3 linked regions of the Homo sapiens genome follow. The protein of the gene in region 1 purifies or fractionates together with the protein of each later gene. This does not show direct contact. Each region holds a gene or a part of one and is shown in the gene's direction. Other genes may lie near its edges.

Region 1 (3,660 bases):
GGATAAAGAGGCATCGTAACTGGTCTTGAGTGGGCTCAGAGTGGTTGGAATCTCTGGGCACCCTTGGGCAGATGTTACCTACGTTTACTAAACCTCTGTGTCATCTTCTCGAAAATGGGAATAATAATACCTCTTACCTCAGGAGCATTTTGAAGACAAGCTAAGGCATGTGAAATGTTTAGCAAAGAGCTGGGTGCTCATAAGGAAAATTGTTAGCCAAAATTATGTTGTTATGTTTTAAGTAAGAGTACAGTGATTTGACATTTATAGAATATAGAAACTTATTTTGTATTCGTATGGGTAACCTTAGTTTGATCAGAATTAGATGAGTTACTGTGCTCAGAAGTCTTAAAAACCAAACAGGAGGCCAGGCACAGTGGCTCACACCTGTAATACCGGCACTCTGGGAGGCCGAGGCAGGCGTATCACGAGGTCAGGAGTTCGAGACCAGCCTGACCAATATGGTGAAACCCTGTCTCTACTAAAAATACAAAAAAGGTAGCCGGGCGTGGTAGCACATTCCTATAATCCCAGCTACTCGGGAGGCTGAGGCAGGAGAATTGCTTGAATCCGCGAGGCAGAGGTTGCAGTGAGCCAAGATTGTGCCACTGCACTCCAGCCTGGGCGACAGAGCAAGACTCCTTCTCCAAAAAAAAAATAATAATAACAGGAAGGCCGGGCCTGGTGGCTCACACTTGTAATCCCAGCACTTTGGGAGGCTGAGTTGGGCAAATTGCTTGAGCCCAGGAGTTTGAAACCAGCCTGGGCAACATGGTGAAACCCTGTCTCTACAAAAAATACAAAAATCTGCTGGATGTGGTGGCACGTGCCTATACTCCCAGCTACTCAGGAGTCTGAGGCAGGAGGATCACCTGAGCCTCGAGAGCCAGAGGTGGAGGCTGCAGTGAACTCTGATTGTACCACTGCACTTCAGCCTAGGTGACAGGGTGAGACCCTGCCTTAAAACAAACAAACAAAAAAAACCCAAATAGGCCAAATTCTCATCAAAACTCTGAAAAATAGCATGTGCATTGGTCATTTCTAGCCCTCTTGACTTACTGTAGGTGTGATCAGCACTGGAAAAGATGCCTGCCCCTGCTGCCACATATGAAAGAGTAGTTTACAAAAACCCTTCCGAGTACCACTACATGAAAGTCTGCCTGTAAGTTTAGTTTCCTAAGTTCTATTTTAGATTACTTTTCTAACATGAATCTGAATAGAATGAAATTTAATATGACTTTTTTTTTTTTCACTTTTTTTAGAGAATTTCAAGATTGTGGAGTTGGACTGAATGCTGCACAGTTCAAACAGCTGCTTATTTCGGCTGTGAAGGACCTGTTTGGGGAGGTATGGAATCACTTGGTAGATTGAACATTCCAAAGATCTTTGTAAGAAATACAGAAAGAGGCCGGGCGCGGTAGCTCACGCCTGTAATCCCAGCACTTTGGAGGCCGAGGTGGGCAGATCATGAGGTCAAGAGATCGAGACCATCCTGGCCAACATGGTGAAACCCCATCTGTACTAAAACTGCAAAGATAAGCTGGGTGTGGTGGCAGGCACCTGTAATCCCAGCTACTCGGGAGGCTGAGGCAGGATAATTGCTTGAACCCGGGAGGCAGAGGTTGCAGTGAGCCGAGATAACGCCACTGCACTCCAGCCTGGCAACAGAGCGAGACTCTGTCACAAAAAAAAAAATCGAGAAAGAATGCTTTTCAAACATCAAAAAAAAAAAAAAAATAAATTATACAACTCTGTATTTTTAAATTTTTATTCATTTATTGTAATAAACACATTTGTATTCCTTTTTTTCCTCCTTCATCCTCTCTACCCTCCTACCCTTCCCAGCCTCTGATAATCACCAATCTACTTTCTATCCTCATGAAATCTACTTTTTGTTGTTGTTGTTGTTGTTGTTGTTGTTTTTCTTTGAGATGGAGTCTTGCTTTGTTGCCCAGGCTGGAGTGCAATGGCACATTCTTGGCTCACTGCAGCCTCTGCCTCCCAGATTCAAGGGATCTTCCTGCCTTAGCCCCCCTGGTAGCTGAGATTACAGGCACACGCTACCATGCCCAACTAATTTTTGTATTTTTACTAGAGACAGGGTTTCGTCATGTTGGCCAGGCTGGTCTTGAACTCCTGACCTCAGGTGATCCACGCGCCTTGGGCTCCCAAAGTGCTGGATTACAGGCACGAGCCACTGTGCCTGGCAAGATCTGCTTTTTTAGCTCTCACATATGAGTGAGAACATGCAACAGTTGTCTTTCTGTGCCTGGCTGGCTTCACTTAACAAAATGGCCTCCAGTTCTATTCATGATGCTGCAAATGACAGAATTTCATTCTTTTTTATGGCTGAATAATATTCCATTGTAATATATACCACTTTTTTTTTTTTATCCATTGATGGGCACTTAAGTTCTACATTTTGCCTATTGGGAATACAATAAATATGAGAGTGCATATGTCCTTTTTTTTTTTTTTCCCCACCTTGGCTTCCCAAAGTGCTGGGATGACAGCATGAGCCACTATGCCCAGCTGCACATGTCTTTTTGAATTGATTTCCTTTCTCTTGGATTTATGCTCAGTAGTAGACTTGCTGGATTAAATGGTATTCTATTTTTAGTTTAGTTTCTTTTGTTTTTTGTTTTTGAGATGAAGTCTTGCCGTGATGCCCAGGGTGGAGTGCAGTGGCATGGTCATGGCTCACTACAGCCTCAACCTCCCAAGCTCAAGTGATTCTCCCACCTCAGTATCCCGAGTAGCTGGGACCACAGGCGTGTGCCACCACGCCAATTTTTTTACTTGTAGAGGCAAGGTCTCACTATGTTGCCCAGGCTCCTGGACTCAAGCAATCCTCCTGCCTTGGCCTCCCAAAGCACTGGGATTACAGACATGAGCCACTGCACCTGACCTATTTTTAGTTTTTTGGGAAACCTCCATACTGCTCTCCACAGTGGTTGTACATTTACATTCCTCCCAGTAGTGTGTGAGGGTTCCCCTAGAGATTATTTTATTTTATTTTTATTTATTTATTTTTTGAGACAGAGTCTCGCTCTGTCACCCAGGCTGGAGTGCAGTGGCACAACCTCCGCACCCCCCCCCGCCCCTCCCGGATTCAAGTGATTCTCCTGCCTCAGCCTCCCGAGTAGCTGAGACTACAGGTACCTGCCACCACGCCCAGCTAATTTTTGTATTCCCCTAGAGATTATTTTAAAACTGTGTTTGAAATTGCAGAAGTAAACTTTCAGAAGTGATGAATTTTGTTGGGTTTATTCTAATATGCCTTCTGTTTGACAAGGAACACGTTAGACAAATGATTGTTGTAGCACAGTGCTACTCAAAGTGTGGCCTAGACTGGCACCTGCAAACTCTTTTCCCATCTTGAAGAGATAAGGAATTTGCAGCAGAACCACTTTTAATGAGAAAGTCTCCTTATGGGCCAGGCGCAGTGGCTCACTCCTATAATCCCAGCTCTTCGGGAGGCTGAGATGAGCAGATCACTTACAGTCAGGAGTTTGAGACTAGCCTGGCCAACGTGGTGAAACGCTTTCTCTACTGAAAATACAAAAATTAGCTGGGCATGGTGGCGCACGCTTGTAGTCCCAGCTACTTGGAAGACTGAGGCAGGAGAATTGCTTGAACCTGGGAGGCAGAGGTTGCAGT
Region 2 (3,660 bases), on another chromosome or scaffold:
ATATAAGATCATATCATCTGCAAACAAGGTAATTTGACTTCCTCCTTTCCAATTTGGAAGCCTTTTTATTTCTTTATCTTGTCTGATTGCTCTGGCTAGGACTTCCAGTACTATGTTGAATAACTGTGGTGAAAGTGGGCATCCTTGTTATGTTCCCAATCTTAGAGGACAGGATTTCAGTTTTTGTCCATTCAGTATAATACTAGCTATGGGTTTGTCATATATGGCTTTTATTCTGTTGAGGTATGTTCCCTCTATACCCATGTTTTTGAGGGTTTTTTGTCATAAAGGGATGTTTAATATTATCAAATGCTTTTTCAGCAACAATTAAAATGATCATGAGGTTTTTGTTCTTCATTCTGTTGATATGATGTATCTCATTAATTGATGTGTGTATGTTGAACCATTCTTGCATCACTGGAATAAATTGCACTTGGTCATGATAAATGATCTTTTGTTTTGTTTTTGTTTTCACTTTTAAGTACAGGGGTACATGTGCAGATTTGTTATTTAGGTAAACTTGTGTCATGGGTGTTTGTTGTACAAATTATTTCATCACCCAGGTATTAAGCCTAGTACCCATTAGCTATTTTTTTTTCTGAGTCCATGTATTCTCATCTTTTAGCTGCCACTTGTAAGTGAGAATGTGTGGTATTTGGTTTTCTGTTGCTGCATTAATTTGCTAGGGATAATGGCTTCTAGCTCTGTTCATGTTCCTATAAAGGACATGATCTCATTCTTTTTTAAAAAAGTGACTTTATTTTATTTTAGTTACATAAATTACAAAATATCACTAAGTGAAAATAAAATCAATAAAAATCATCCATGATACCACCCACTTTAACATTTATGTGTATAGCCTCTTATGCTTTATTTCCTCACATATATAGATAAATACATTCATCAAAAAGAGGTTATTTCATATATTAAGTTGGTACAAAATTAATTGCGCTTTTTGCCATTACTTTTAATACATTGTTTTGCAAACTATTTTTATTTCACAATATATTATGAATTTATTTCTATAACATTAAATATATTATCTGTATGTATGTGTGTCTTGGTTTCTTATGACTAAAATTTTTTAAAATTAAGGCGTTGTTATGTTGAGATAGTTGAAGATTCACATGCAGTTTTAAGAAATAATACAGAGAGATGCTGTGTGCCCTTTACCAAGTTTCCCTTAATGATAACATCTTGTAAAACTATAGTATGATAAGAAAACCAGGACATTATTGACATTGATGCAGTCAGATACAGAAGATTTTCATCACTACACAGATCCGTGTTGCCCTTTTAAAGCCACATCCACTTGTGTCTCATCCAGTCCCTCAACCATTAATCTCTTTTCTGCTTTGATAATTTTATCATGTCAAGAATGTTACGTAAATGGAATAAAACAGTATATCACCTTTTGGGATTGTCTTTTTTTTCCCCACTCAGCACAATTCCCTGGAACTTCATCCAAGTTGTTGTGTGTATCAACAGTTTGATCCTTTTTATTGCTGAGTACTACTCCATGATACTGATATGCCACAGTTTGTTTAATTATTCAGCTGTTGAAGGACATTTTGGTTGTCACTAGTTTTGGGTTATTACAAACAAGGCTGTATAAATCCTCTTTTACAGGTTTCTTTATGGACATAAGTTTTCATTTCTCTGAGATAAATGCCAAAGGGTCTAGTTGTTTGGTCGCGTAGCAGCTGCATGTTTAGATTTGGAAGAAATTGCCAAAGTGCTTTCCAGTGTGGTCATACTATTTTACATTAAAACCAGCAATATTTCTGTGCATTCTTACCAGCATTTTGTGTTGTCACTATTATTATCTTAACTATTTTGAAAGCTGTGTAGTGACATTTTATTGTTTAAATTTGCATTTCCCAAAAGGCTAATAAAATTGAACATTTTGTCTGCTTATTTGTCATCTGCATGTCCTCTTCAGTGCAATGTCTGTCCATGTCCTTTGCTCATTTTCTTTTTTCCTTTTTTATTTTAGAGTATTTAGTTGGCAAATAAAGATTGTATATATTCAATGTATACAACACAATGATTTTGTTTCTTTTTAAAAAGAATTATTTATTTTTCAATGGGTTTTTGGGGAACAGGTGAAGTTTGGTTACATGAATAAGATATATAGTAGTGATTTCAGAGATATTGGTGCATCCGTCACCCAAGCAGTGTACACTGTACCCAATGTGTAGTCTTTTATCTTCACTCCCCCACCCCTTTCTCTGAGTCTTCAAAGTCCATTGTATCATTCTTATGCCTTTGCGTCCTCATAGCTTAGCTCCCAATTATAAGTGAGAACATACCATGTTTGGCTTTCCATTCCTGAGTTACTTCACTTAGAATAATAGTCTCCAATTCCTTCCAGGTTGCTGCAAATGCCATTATTTAGTGCCTTTTTATGGCTGAGTAGTATTCCATGGTGTGTGTATGTGTGCATATATATATATATATATATATATATATATATATATATATATATATCACATTTTCTTTTTTATTATACTTTCAGTTCTTGGATGCATGTGCAGAACGTGCAGGTTTGTTACATAGGTATACATGTGCCATGGTGGTTTGCTGCACCCATCAACCCGTCATCTAGGTTTTGGGCTCCACATGCATTAGGTAATGCTCTCCCTCTCATTTCCCCCCACTCCGCAACTGGCTCCAGTGTTCCATGTGTTCTCATTGTTCAGCTCCCACTTATGAGTGAGAACATGTGGTGTTTGCTTTTCTGTTCCTGTGTTAGTTTGCTGAGAATGATGGGTTCCATCTTTATCCATGTCTCTGCAAAGGACATGAACTCATTCTCTTTTATGGCTGCATAATATTCCATGGTGTATCTGTGCCACATTTTCTTTGTCCATTCTATCATTGATGGCCCTTTGGGTTGATTCCAAGTCTTTGCTCTTGTAAATAGTGCTGCAGTAAACATATGTGTGCATGTGCCTTTATGGTAGAATGATTTATAATCCTTTGGGTATATACCCAGTAATGGGATTGCTGGGTCAAATGGTATTTCTGATTCTAGATCCTTGAGGAATTTTCACACTGTCTTCCACAATGATTGAACTAATTGACATTCCTACTAACAGTGTAAAAGTGTTCCTATTTCTCCACATCCTCTCCAGCATCTGTTGTTTCCTGACTTTTTAATGATTGCCATTTTAACTGATGTGAGATGGTATCTCATTGCGGTTTTGATTTGCATTTCTCTAATGATCAGTGATGATTAGCTTTTATTCATATGATTGTTGGCCACATAAATGTCTTCTTTTGAGACGCTCATATCCTTCACCCACTTTTTGATGGGGTTGTTTGGTTTTTTCTTGTAAATTTATTTAAGTTCCTTGTAGATTCTGGATATTAGCCCCTTGTCAGATGGATAGATTGCAAAAATTTTCTCCATTCTGTAGGTTGCCTGATCACTCTGATGACAGTTTCTTTTGCCATGCAGAAGCTCTTTAGTTTAATTAGATCCCATTTGTCAATTTTGGCTTTTGTTGCCATTGCTTTTGTTGTTTTAGTCATGAAGTCTTTGCCCATGCCTATGTCCTGAATGGTATTGCCTAGGTTTTTTTCTAGGGTTTTTATGGTTTTAGGTCTTATGTTTAAGTTTTTAATCCATCTTGAGTTAATTTTTGTATAAGGTGT
Region 3 (2,361 bases), on another chromosome or scaffold:
CCCCATCCTATTTGTTTCACCCCCTGTCACTTATTTCCCTCTTCCTGACCACTTTGAACCTGATGCCAGCCCCTCACAGTCACTGCATTGCATCTGGATGAGCCACTTTTCTTCCTGATTTCCTGAGCTCTAGGGGAGCATAGAGATAATGGGGTCAGGGGACACAGTGTGGCCACCGTGAAGGAAGCAGCTTAGGCCCCAGAAGTCTCCAGGATTGCTGTACCGAGATGACCAGGGTGTGATCTCTCACCCTAAGGAGCTGAATTTGGCTTTTCTGTGGGAAAGTGTCTGGGAAGAATATCAGAGACCAATAGCGCTCAGGGGGCCCTTTCTCGGGGCTGTCCAGTGTGGAAACACCCTGTCCTACACCAGTGGTTCCTGATTCCGGCTCTGAATCAGATTCACGAGGGCAACTTTTTTTTTTTTTTTGATATGGAGTCTTGCTGTCGCCCAGGCTAGAATGCAGTGGCGCGATCTTGACTCACTACAACCTCCGTCTCCTGGATTCAAGAGATTCTCCTGCCTCAGCCTCCAAGTAGCTGGGATTACAGGCAGGCACCACCATGCCTGGCTAATTTTTTTGTATTTTTTAGTAGAGACGGGATTTCGCCATATTGGCCAGGCTGGTCTCGAACTCCTGACCTTATGATCCGCCCGCCTTGGGCTCCCAATGTGCTTTGGTTACTGGCGTGAGCCACTGCACCCGGCCTGGGGCAGCTTTTTATAAGCACAGATGCCCAGGCCTTATTATTGAAGATTCCAATTCAGTAGATCTGGGTTGAGGACCAAGCATCTGCATGTTTTAAGAAGCCACAGGTTATTTTTGAGGTGTAGCAAGGATTGAAAGAACAGAAAACTTGGATTTGGAAAACTAGTTGTGACTTTAGGCAGTGAGTCAGTTTCCTAATGCACACATTGGGGGATTCTATAGGAATGCTGTAAGAAGCAAATAATACATGGAGAGAGTGCTTTATACAGCGATACACTGCACAGACACACTTGCCTTCAACATCAGCTGCCAGCCTAGTAAGTGGTAGTATAAATGCAAAGGATATAACTTCCTTTAGTTTTGCCAGGTGGGTCCCTGTGATTCTAGCTGAGCCCCAGGAAGGAAGGGAAGAAAACTGAGGGAAGAGAAGGGAGTGTGTAGTTGCCTCTGGGAAGGATAAAAGGATATGCCCTCTGGACCAATAGTTTATAACATTTTCCCCATTAAGCATCCTTCTACTCATTTTTCCTCAATGGATTAGTATCTTTAAATTTCATTACATTTCCCTAGTCTTCATGGAATTGCCAGCCAGAGAAGTCAGCTCGGGGTCCCCCTAAAAAGGAGGACTGGCCGGGAGTGGTGGCTCGTTCCTGTAATCCCAGCACTCTGGGAAGCTGAGGTGGGTGAATCACCTGAGGTCAGGAGTTCGAGACCCGCCTGGCCAACATGGTGAACCCCATCTCTACTAAAAATACAAAAATTAGCCAGGCGTGGTGTTGGGCACCTATAATCCCAGCTACTCCGGAGGCTGTGGCAGGAGAATCGCTTGAATCTGGGAGGCAGAGGTTGCAATAAGCTGAGATCATGCCATTGCACTCCAGCCTAGGCAACAAGAGCAAAACTCCGTCTCAAAAAACAAAAAAAAGGGAGTGTATGCCTGCATATGTATCAAATGCTGTAGGAAGGATATTCAAGAAATTTAGGGCCCTGGGAGGTGGGGAGACTTACAAAAGTGGACGTGACAGTGTTATTTGAAGTTTTAATCATGAGATGACTGTTCAGTTCTTTAAAATATCACACCTGATTGGTTGTGAATGGCAGAGGCCACCAGAGTATTTGCAGATTGGGAGCTCTACGTGGGTGGACATCGGGTCTTGCTTACTGTGAGCCCCAGGACCTAGAACACCACTTGCATACTGGAGGTGCTCAGATCATTTTTTTTTTTTTTTTTTTGCAGACAGGGTCAGATGTGTTACTGGGCTGGAGTGTGGTGGCACAATCACGCTCACTGCATCCTTGACCTCCTGGGCTCAAGTGATCTTCCCACCTCAGCCTCCCAAGTAGCTGGGACTACAGGTACGCCTCACACTTAGCTAATTTATGTATTTTTTGTAGAGGGTTTCTCCATTTGCTCAGAGTGGTCTCGAACTCATGGGCTGAAGTGATCTGTCCACCACAGCCTCCCGAAATTCTGAGACTGAAGGCATGAGCCAGTGTGCCAGGCCTAGAATATTTGTTGAGTGAATGCATGGAAGCCCAACTAGATAGCATTTTGGAAAACAGTAACAAGTTAGAAGATTAATACCATACAGTCACTAGAAGGTTAATTATGAACAAGTAGAAACAGAATATTTTTAATAAATGAAATAGAC

The links.
Region 2: the proteins of RPP14 (region 1) and CLIC2 purify together in Homo sapiens (affinity purification with mass spectrometry; one large-scale study listed by BioGRID and IntAct). This does not show direct contact.
Region 3: the proteins of RPP14 (region 1) and RPP38 purify together in Homo sapiens (co-immunoprecipitation; 2 studies listed by BioGRID and IntAct, with this or other methods). This does not show direct contact.

What each region holds. Positions count from the first base shown.
Region 1 is NC_000003.12:58,309,245-58,312,904, forward strand, and holds part of RPP14 (ribonuclease P protein subunit p14), read left to right. Parts: intron 1-1,064; 5' UTR 1,065-1,085; coding exon 1,086-1,162; intron 1,163-1,262; coding exon 1,263-1,347; intron 1,348-3,660. UniProt on the Homo sapiens protein: Component of ribonuclease P, a ribonucleoprotein complex that generates mature tRNA molecules by cleaving their 5'-ends.
Region 2 is NC_000023.11:155,324,592-155,328,251, reverse strand, and holds part of CLIC2 (chloride intracellular channel protein 2), read left to right. Parts: intron 1-3,660. UniProt on the Homo sapiens protein: In the soluble state, catalyzes glutaredoxin-like thiol disulfide exchange reactions with reduced glutathione as electron donor. Displays weak glutathione peroxidase activity. Can insert into membranes and form chloride ion channels.
Region 3 is NC_000010.11:15,100,272-15,102,632, forward strand, and holds part of RPP38 (ribonuclease P protein subunit p38), read left to right. Parts: intron 1-1,946; 5' UTR 1,947-2,065; intron 2,066-2,361. UniProt on the Homo sapiens protein: Component of ribonuclease P, a ribonucleoprotein complex that generates mature tRNA molecules by cleaving their 5'-ends. Also a component of the MRP ribonuclease complex, which cleaves pre-rRNA sequences.